2 linked regions of the Homo sapiens genome follow. The protein of the gene in region 1 purifies or fractionates together with the protein of each later gene. This does not show direct contact. Each region holds a gene or a part of one and is shown on either strand. Other genes may lie near its edges.

Region 1 (5,304 bases):
GTGTTGATTATCCTGATTTTGTAGTAAGTTTCAGAACTCAGAAACTGTGAGCCTCTGACTTTCTTCTTCCTTTTTGAGATTATTTTGACAATTTGGGGATCTCTTGAAATTTCATATGAAAGTTAGTGTGGATATTTTTGATGTTTTTATTTATAAAAAAATCATTGGAATTTTGATAGGGATTGCATTGAATCTGTATGTCACTTTTACAGGATGTCTTTCTAATTATTTAACTCTTCCTTAATTTCTTTTAAGAATGTTTGGCCAAGCACAGTGGTTCACACCTGTAATCCCAGCACTTTGAGAAGCTGAGGCCAGCAGATCACTTGAGCTCAAGAATTTGAGACCAACTTGGACAACACGGGGAAACCCCATCTCTACAAAATATACAAAAATTAGACAGGCCTGGTGTCACGTGCCTGTAGTCTCAGCTACTCGGGAGGCTGAGGTGGGAGTATTGCTTGAGCCTGGGAGGTCAAGACTACAGTGATCAGTGATCACAGTCTAGCCTGGATGACACCGTGAGACTCTGTCTCCAAAAAAAAAAAATTTTGTAATTTTCATTATACAAGTCATTCCCCTCTATGGTTACGTTTTTTGGGTTTTTTGTTTGTTTGTTTTGTGACAGTCTTGCTGTGTCACCAGCCTGGAGTGCAGTGGCACAATCTCGGCTCACTGCAACCTCCACCTCCTGGGTTCAGGCAATTCTCATGCCTCAGCCACCCGAGTAGCTGGGATTACAGGTGCCCGCCACCACACCCAGCTAATTTTGTGTGTGTGTGTGTGTGTAGTTTTAGTAGAGACAGGGTTTCACCACATTGGCCAGATGGTCTCGATCTGCTGACCTTGTGATCACCTGCCTCAGCCTCCCAAAGTGCTGGGATTACAGGCGTGAGCCACTGTGCCTGGCCAATTTTATTCTGAAGTAGTTTGCCCTTTTGGTGGTATGTTAAATGGGATTGCTTTCAAAATTTCCTTTGTGGATTGTTCTTTGCTACTGTATACAAATGCAACAGATTTCTGCATGTTAATTTTGTATGCTGCAACTTTGCTGAATTCTTTTTATTAGTTCTAACAGTTCTGTGTAATATTTAAAGTTTTCTGCAGAGATCATATCATCAGTAAATAGAGATTATTTTACATCTTCCTTTCCAATTTAGATGCTTTCTGTTTCCTTTTCTCACCTAATTACTCTGGATAGGACCTCTAGTACTTTGTGGAAAAGAAGTGGCAAAAGTGGGCATCTTTTCCTTGTTCCCATATTAGAGGAAAATTTTCAGTCTTCACCATTGAGTATGAAGCAGGCTGTGGATTTTTCATGTATGTCCTTTGTTTTGTTGAGGTAATTTTTTTCTGTTTCTCTATCCCTCTTTTTTTTTTTTTTTTTTTTTTAAGACAAGAGTCTCGCTCTGTTGCCCAGGCTGGAGTGCAGTGGTGCTATCTCAGCTCACTGCAACCTCCGCCTCCTGGGTTCAAGTGATTCTCCTTCCTCAGTTTTTTTCTATTTCTAATTTGTTGATTGTTTTTATCATGAAAGGTCCTGAATCCATTTATGTACTGGATATTCAAATTTTTCTATTTTTCTGATTATAAGTAACGTAAGTACTGATTGTGGTTTTGGTTATCTCTCTTAACATTAATCATGATGCTACATTTGCCTCAATTTCCTGAAGTACCTGCTATTAAACCTCCAGCCCTTCTTATCCCATCTCTCCTTTACAGGCTTCTCTCTGGGCTCCACAGTGAAATCTCACACCAAAGGAATCTGGATGTGGTGTGTGCCTCACCCCAAAAAGCCAGAACACACCTTAGTCCTGCTTGACACTGAGGGCCTGGGAGATGTAAAGAAGGTAAGGGTCAAAGATTCAATTTTGAAATAAGCCCCTCATCTCTGAATATTTTAAGCACCATTTAGTTTTTTCTTAAAGAAGAGTTTGCATTTAACTATAATTTGTCTTTTCATTTCTGTGTACATGTCATAAGGCCAAACTTAGCAACCAGAAGTGAGAAAAATATTCATAAGACAGAATCCTAGCAAAGCATGGTGGTCAACACACAGTATTCTACTAACCATAGGTTGTAAGCTATGTGAGTTAACACAGATGCATAAAGGGAGCACAAATAAATCCAATGTCACGAGTCCTATCCTGCAAAGAACTTATAATTCAGTAGCCTGAGCAAGTTTAAATTATACTTCAGGCCTTAGAATGCCCATTAACCTTGAATGTTTATTTTGCAATTGTCTGCCAATGATCATAAGAGGACCTGGTGAGAATCAGTGTATACCAAAAAACACTAATCAAAAAACTATACACATTCCACAGCTGAGTAACAATCATTTTGTTTGGATTTGGGTTCTTTTCATAGGTCATTAGTCTTAAAAGAAAACTCTAACTTATGATATACTTTTACTACTGTCACTCTGGAAAGTGCTGTGATGATGAAACTTGCTCCTGACTCCAGTGTGTCTTGACTTCCAGGGTGACAACCAGAATGACTCCTGGATCTTCACCCTGGCCGTCCTCCTGAGCAGCACTCTCGTGTACAATAGCATGGGAACCATCAACCAGCAGGCTATGGACCAACTGTAGTATCCTTTTGTGACCCAGAACAGCACCAAGGTCAGAGGGGACACCTGTATTCATAAACCAGCTGCCTGACTGTGAATCCTGATGAATCAAGCTCAAAAGGAGAAAACAAAAAATAATGCAAGTACAGAGGAGAGATCCCATGTATCCACTTTAGAATTGACACTTAGGTTAGGATCAAAGGAAAATGGAAGGTTTGGGAATGTGTTGAACTAATATGGGATGAGGTTCCTGTTCATTTTGTCACATTTCCTTAGTTAGCTACTCAGCTATGTGACAGAGCTGACACATCGAATCCGATCAAAATCCTCACCTGATGAGAATGAGAATGAGGATTCAGCTGACTTTGTGAGCTTCTTCCCAGATTTTGTGTGGACACTGAGAGATTTCTCCCTGGACTTGGAAGCAGATGGACAACCCCTCACACCAGATGAGTACCTGGAGTATTCCCTGAAGCTAACGCAAGGTAACAGAGACGTACCATTGATAAATGAGGACGACAAAACACTAGAAATTATCATTTTTTAGTTTACTATTGATAGTTTTCTCACATTTACAGTTTTCTATATCTCTAGCTTGCTATTCTTAAGAATTAATGCTTGCTATTAGCAATAGAAAAGGTTTTTTGAAAAAAGGAAAAAAGGAATGAATGCTTGCTGAATATCTAAATTAATAGATTAGATTTTAAATTATATTCTCCTGTGTTCTAAAATAAGTTTCTTTTTCTTTCATTTTTTCCTATTTTACAATTTAGGTAAATTTTATCTCCTTATGTAGGGTTCGTGATTCTGTATTTACCTGTAAAATATGAAGGACAATGGATATTTACTTAAAGAACATAGATTGAACATGAACAGTGTACTAGTCCAAATGCTGGCGAACTGCAGCCTAAGACAAATGATGGCCAATTCTGCCTGCCAGCTGTCTTTCTAAGTGAGGTTTTTTGGGAAGAATGCTATGCCCATTCATTTACATATTGTCTAAAGCTGTTGTCATGCTCCAATAACAAAGTTGAGTACTTGGAAAAGAGACCACCTAGCCTGCAGAGCCTAAAATATTTACTATTTGACGCTTTACGGAAACACTTATATTAGGCAAATTTCTTTATTATGTTTCTCTAGGTACCAGTCAAAAAGATAAAAATTTTAATCTGCCCCGACTCTGTATCCGGAAGTTCTTCCCAAAGAAAAAATGTTTTGTCTTCGATCTGCCCATTCACCGCAGGAAGCTTGCCCAGCTTGAGAAACTACAAGATGAAGAGCTGGACCCTGAATTTGTGCAACAAGTAGCAGACTTCTGTTCCTACATCTTTAGCAATTCCAAAACTAAAACTCTTTCAGGAGGCATCAAGGTCAATGGGCCTCGTAAGTCCCCTTCGTAGTACTTCCACTCATTGTTAAAACTAAAGGATGGCCAGGCATGATGGTTCATGCCTGTAATCCCAGCACTTTGGGAGGCCGAGGAGGGCAGATCACTTGAGGCCAGGAGTTTGAGACCAACCTAGCCCACATGGCAAAACCATGTCTCTACTAAAAATACAAAAATAAATGAGGCATGGTGGCACATACCTGTAATCCCAGCTACTTGGGAGGCTGAGGCAGGAGAATTGCTTGAACCTGGGAGGCAGAGGTTGCAGTGAGACGAGATCACGCCACTGCACTCCAGCCTGGGTGACAGAGGAAAAAAAAAATATGAAAGGAGCATAGAATAACTCCACCTAGTATCAGCATTGAAAAATCCCAATCTACTGCTACATTTGTGCTAAATTCTAGATGACACCAACATTTCTAATAGATTTTGTTGGTCAACCTTCTTGGTGGGAAAAGATAGGAAAAGCAAAGGAAAAAAGTTTTATTACTTAAAATTGCCACAGTAAACTGGGCCTGCACTGTACAGTACAGTAGCCACTAGACAAGTGGGGCTATCTAAATGTAAATGTAAATTAATTAAAATAAGGAAAAATTAAAGGTCAATTCACATGGCTATATTTCAAAGGCTTATATTTACATGTACTTAGTGGCTAGCATACTGAACAGCACATACAGAACACTTCCACCATTACAGAAAGTTTTCTTGGACAATGCTGTGCTAAAATAAACCAAACGGAGGGCTCCTTTTGATTAGGAGAGTATCATTTGTTCCATAAGTATTGATCAAATGCTACTGTGAATAAGCTGAGGATACAGTCATATATGGAATAGCTATGGGTTCCTTTCCTGATGGTGCTTGGGGTTGAAATGGATGCAAACATTCAACTAACACAGGACTAGGTCATCTAGAACAAGGATTCTCAAATGTTGATATGCATACATATCATCTAGGGATCTTACCCAAAGAAAAAACTCTAATTCAGTAGATCTGGGACAGAGGCTAACAATAGGCATTTCCAGCAAGCTTCCAGATGATTCTGAGGACCTTGATGCTGTGAGGAAAATAGGTGGAAATTGACATGTTCAGAATTACACAGAATAGAGAGTTTTCTTTAGTACAAGAAACATTATCATTTCTTCTTTGTATGTAGGTCTAGAGAGCCTAGTGCTGACCTATATCAATGCTATCAGCAGAGGGGATCTGCCCTGCATGGAGAACGCAGTCCTGGCCTTGGCCCAGATAGAGAACTCAGCCGCAGTGCAAAAGGCTATTGCCCACTATGACCAGCAGATGGGCCAGAAGGTGCAGCTGCCCGCAGAAACCCTCCAGGAGCTGCTGGACCTGC
Region 2 (4,402 bases), on another chromosome or scaffold:
CTAACACGGTGAAACCTCATCTCTACTAAAAATACAAAAAATTAGCTGGGCGTGGTGGCAGGTGCCTGTAGTCCCAGCTACTCTGGAGGCTGAGGCAGGAGAATGGTGTGAACCTGGGAGGAGGAGTTTGCAGTGAGCCTAGATCATGCCACTGCACTCCAGCCTGGGCGACAGAGCGAGACTCCATCTCAAAAAAAATAAAAAATAAATAAATAAATTAAATAAAATACTATAATTTTATGAATTTTCATTTTATTTATTTATTTATTTTTTAAGACCATGTTTCGCTCTTGTTGCCCAGGCTGGAGTGCAATGGCGCAATTTTGGCTCACCACAACCTCCGCCTCCTGGGTTCAAGTGATTCTCCTGCCTCAGCCTCCCAAGTAGCTGGGATTACAGGCATGCACCACCACACCCGGCTAATTTTTTATATTTTTAGTAGAGACGGGGTTTCTCCATGTTGGTCAGGCTGGTCTCGAACTCCCGACCTCAGGTGATCCGCCCGCCTTGGCCTCCTAAAGTGCTGTGATTAGAGGTGTGAGCCAAGGCACCTGGCCGAATTTTCATTTTAAATCATTGCCGTATAGCAATATGGGAGGTGTATTTTAACAGGGCTCTTTTATTTTTTATTTATTTTTATTTTATTTTATTTATACATATTTTTTGAGACGGAGTCTTGCTCTTTTGCCCAGGCTGGAGTGCAGTGGTGCGATCTCGGCTCACTGCAACATCTGCCTCCCGGGTTCAAGCTATTCTCCTGCCTCAGCCTCCCAAGTAGCTAGGACTACAGGCACCCACCACCACGCCCAGCTGATTTTTGTATTTTTAGTAGAGACGAGGTTTTACCATATTGTCCAAGCTGGTCTCGATCTCCTGACCTTGTGGCCCACCCACCTTGGCCTTCCAAAGTGCTGGGAGCCACCGGCCCGGCCCAATAGGGCTCTTTTAAAAGAGCCTCCTTTTTTATTCTCAGGGACAAAGTGGCCTTCATCACAGGAGGCGGCTCTGGGATTGGGTTCCGGATTGCTGAGATTTTCATGCGGTGAGACTGCTCTGTGTCCCTTCCCTGCTCCTCGCTTCTCCCTGCCCGGGCCCTGCTGGATGCCCGACCCCTGGAAAGATGTTGGTGGGAGGTAGATGTCCCCTGCTCACCTACCCGACAGGATCCAGGTGCCTGCCAGAGGGACTGGGGAGCGGTCGAGGATTGCCCTGGGGGGAGTCAGGACTTCAAGGCCCCTACAGGTCAGTGGAGATTGTGTGGCTCTGGTCTGGGGCCTGCTGGGACCTCGAGAGTCAGGGCTGTGTCGGGCCCCAGTGCTGGCGCCCTGCAGAGCACATTTTCTCCTGGGACACAATTCTGTGGCTTCAGGCCAGGGTCAGCAACTTATCCCACCTGACAGTGGCTAGAGTTAGGCTGGGGTGGGGGAAAGGGACCCTTCCTCAGTTCCCCTGAGGCCCCTGCTTTTCAGACCAAAAAGGTGAGTCCCACAGGAAGAGATATGGCCTTTCCACTGGTGGCTTTGTGCTCAGGGCATCTGAGGACCAGATGGGACATTGCAGCTCCAGTGGGACCTGCCTAGCAGGGGTAGCTACCTTTATGGTTATTGTGGGCAAGCAACCCCCGAACCAGAAGAGCCGAGAAACCAAAGAACAAGGCAGACAGATCCCGTTTGTCTGTGTCAGGTGATTTTACCAGGGAATTTGTGGGCAGAAGCGTAGTCTTGGGTGGCTGTGAGACGGGCGTCTCCATGCTGTTACCCCCAGGCCCAGGGCTTCTATACCACAGGGAAAGGGGTCCTGCTTCAGAGGGAGTGTGTAGGAATTTGTTTAGGATAACATCAAGGTGGTTTTGACCTAAAGGCAGGACTTCTTTGTGCTCTTTCGCAAGAACAGTAGATAAGCTGGAAATCCTAGCGGCATTCCTGGAACCAGGGTTCATAGAGGCCAACGTGGTGGATTCGCATCCACGTGGTCAGGAAGGGGAGCAGGGAGCACCCCGCTTCAGAACAGTCCTCCACGCCAGCCCCACAGGGAGAAGGGGGTGGAGAATGTGGGCCCAGCAGGCCCCAGGCAGATGTGTGGGCTGGGCGTCTGTGGCTCACAGCTGTCTCTGTACCTGGTGTTTGGGGCAGGACCCGCAGGCCTGTGCGGTGGGATGTCCCATGCCAGAAACCCCGGGGTGGGCACCACCTGAGGTCCCTCCAGAGTACCTCAGTCCTGTTCACGCCCCTGTGCCCTCTGCCAGCTGGGCCTTCAGCCTGGACTGGTACTTCCGCCTGAGAGACTCCTGCTCAGGAGCTGGGCAGATGCCCCGGGAGTGCCCCTCGCCCACACTGCCCTCACACCTGCTTCTGGTTTTGCAGGCACGGCTGCCATACGGTGATTGCCAGTAGGAGCCTGCCGCGAGTGCTGACGGTGAGAGGGCCTCTCCCATGGTCCCCTGTTCGGGTGGCTGTGGGGGGGCTGGGGCTGGGCCTGGGCCAGGAGAGTCCAGAGGCTATGGGGATGTTGGCACCAAAACTTTTTTTTTCTGAGACGGGAGTCTCGCTCTGTCACCCAGGCTGAAGTGTGGTGGTGCGATCTCGGCTCACTGCAGCCTCCACCTCCCAGGATCAAGCGATTCTCCTGCCTCAGCCTCCGGAGTAGCTGGGACTACAGGTGCCCGCCACCACGCCTGGCTAATTTTTGCATTTTTTTGGTAGAGATGGGTTTTCACCACGTTGACCAGGCTGGTCTCGAATTCCTGACCTCAGGTGATCCGCCCACCTCAGCCTCCCAAAGTGCCAGGATTACAGGTGTGAACCACTGTGCCCGGCCGGCACCTCAGCCTCCCAAAGTGCCAGGATTACAGGTGTGAATCACTGTGCCCGGCCGGCACCTCAGCCTCCCAAAGTGCCAGGATTACAGGTGTGAACCACTGTGCCCAGCCGGCACCAAAACTTGCACCTATCCTAAATATGGAGCTTCAGTGTAAGTGGCCTCCCAGAGACATCTTTGACTTTTTAAAAAATCTAGTTATTGGGTTCTGGGAGGGACCTTCCTGTTTGGGGGTAATGTGGCCCCAAGAAAGACCTCTGGGCTCACCTGGGTTATTTAGGTGGTCCGTGCGTCCCACCTACTGGAGCCCTCGACCTGGGAGGAGAGTCTCACCTGTGCCACCTCTGGTCTGCAGCAGGGGCAGGACATGGGTGACAGTGGCCTGGAGGGCGACGCAGAGGGAGGATTCTAGGACAGGTGGCAGGTGGGGGGAGAGCGTGGCAGGTTCCCACAAACATCCACTGGGGTCGTGGGCACTTGCAGGCTGTGCTTCCCCAGAGTGGGGTCCAGCAGCAAACCCAGGGTCCCCGAGGAACCCGGAAGCATCGTCCTCTGCAGATTCCAAAGGCCTTTTCTCCAGGCCGAGGCTGCAGGGCTGCTGTCTGCCTCTTTACCTGGCTTCTAGGCCGCCAGGAAGCTGGCTGGGGCCACCGGCCGGCGCTGCCTCCCTCTCTCTATGGACGTCCGAGCGCCCCCAGCTGTCATGGCCGCCGTGGACCAGGCTCTGAAGGAGTTTGGCAGAATCGACATTCTCATTAACTGTGAGTCGGTGCTGAGTGAGGTTGGTGGCTTCTCACAGGTTGGTGGTACCATTTGGAGGCCCTAGAACTCTGGTCATGGGGTGGGGACCATGCCAGGGAACCTAGCTGCCTGTGCTGGGGTGGGCTGCACCCCATCCAGGTACCTGAGGCCAAGACTCAGGCTCCGGCCCCCTGTCTCCGGCCCCATCTCCGGCCCCCTGTCTCCGGGCCCCTGTCTCCGGGCCTCTGTCTCCGGGCTCTGTCTCCGGGCCTCTGTCTTCGGCCGCATCTCCGGCCCCCTGTCTCTGGGCCTCTGTCTCCGGGCGTCTCTCTCCGGCCCCATCTCCGGCCCCCTGTCTCCGGGCCTCTGTCTCCGGCCCCATCTCCGGCCCCCTGTCTCCGGGCCCCTGTCTCCAGGCCTCTGTCTCCGGCCCCCTGTCTCCGGGCCCCTGTCTCCGGGCCTCTGTCTCCGGCCCCCTGTCTCCGGGCCCCTGTCTCCGGGCCTCTGTCTCCGGCCCTCTGTCTCCGGGCCCCTGTCTCCGGGCCCCTGTCTCCAGCCCCCTGTCTCCGGACCTCTGTCTCCGGGCCCCTGTCTCCGGGCCTCTGTCTCCGGCCCCCTGTCTCCGGGCCTCTGTCTCCGGGCCTCTGTCTCCGGCCCCCTGTCTCCGGCCCCCTGTCTCCGGGCCTCTGTCTCCGGGCCTCTGTCTCCGGCCCCCTGTCTCTGGGCCTCTGTCTCCGGCCCCATCTCCGGCCCCCTGTCTCCGGGCTTCTGTCTCTGGCCCTCTGTCTCTGGCCCTCTGTCTCCAGGCCTTTGTGTCCCGCCTTCTGTCTCTGGCCCTCTGTCT

Evidence for each region. The genes of interacting proteins can lie anywhere in the genome.
Region 2: the proteins of GBP3 (region 1) and DECR2 purify together in Homo sapiens (affinity purification with mass spectrometry; one large-scale study listed by BioGRID and IntAct). This does not show direct contact.

The regions. Positions count from the first base shown.
Region 1 is NC_000001.11:89,011,833-89,017,136, reverse strand, and holds part of GBP3 (guanylate-binding protein 3), read left to right. Parts: intron 1-1,722; coding exon 1,723-1,850; intron 1,851-2,480; coding exon 2,481-2,590; exon of another isoform or gene 2,591-2,706; coding exon of another isoform or gene 2,707-2,732; intron 2,733-2,857; coding exon 2,858-3,054; intron 3,055-3,709; coding exon 3,710-3,952; intron 3,953-5,109; coding exon 5,110-5,304.
Region 2 is NC_000016.10:403,983-408,384, forward strand, and holds part of DECR2 (peroxisomal 2,4-dienoyl-CoA reductase [(3E)-enoyl-CoA-producing]), read left to right. Parts: intron 1-973; coding exon 974-1,042; intron 1,043-2,363; coding exon 2,364-2,415; intron 2,416-3,442; coding exon 3,443-3,578; intron 3,579-4,402.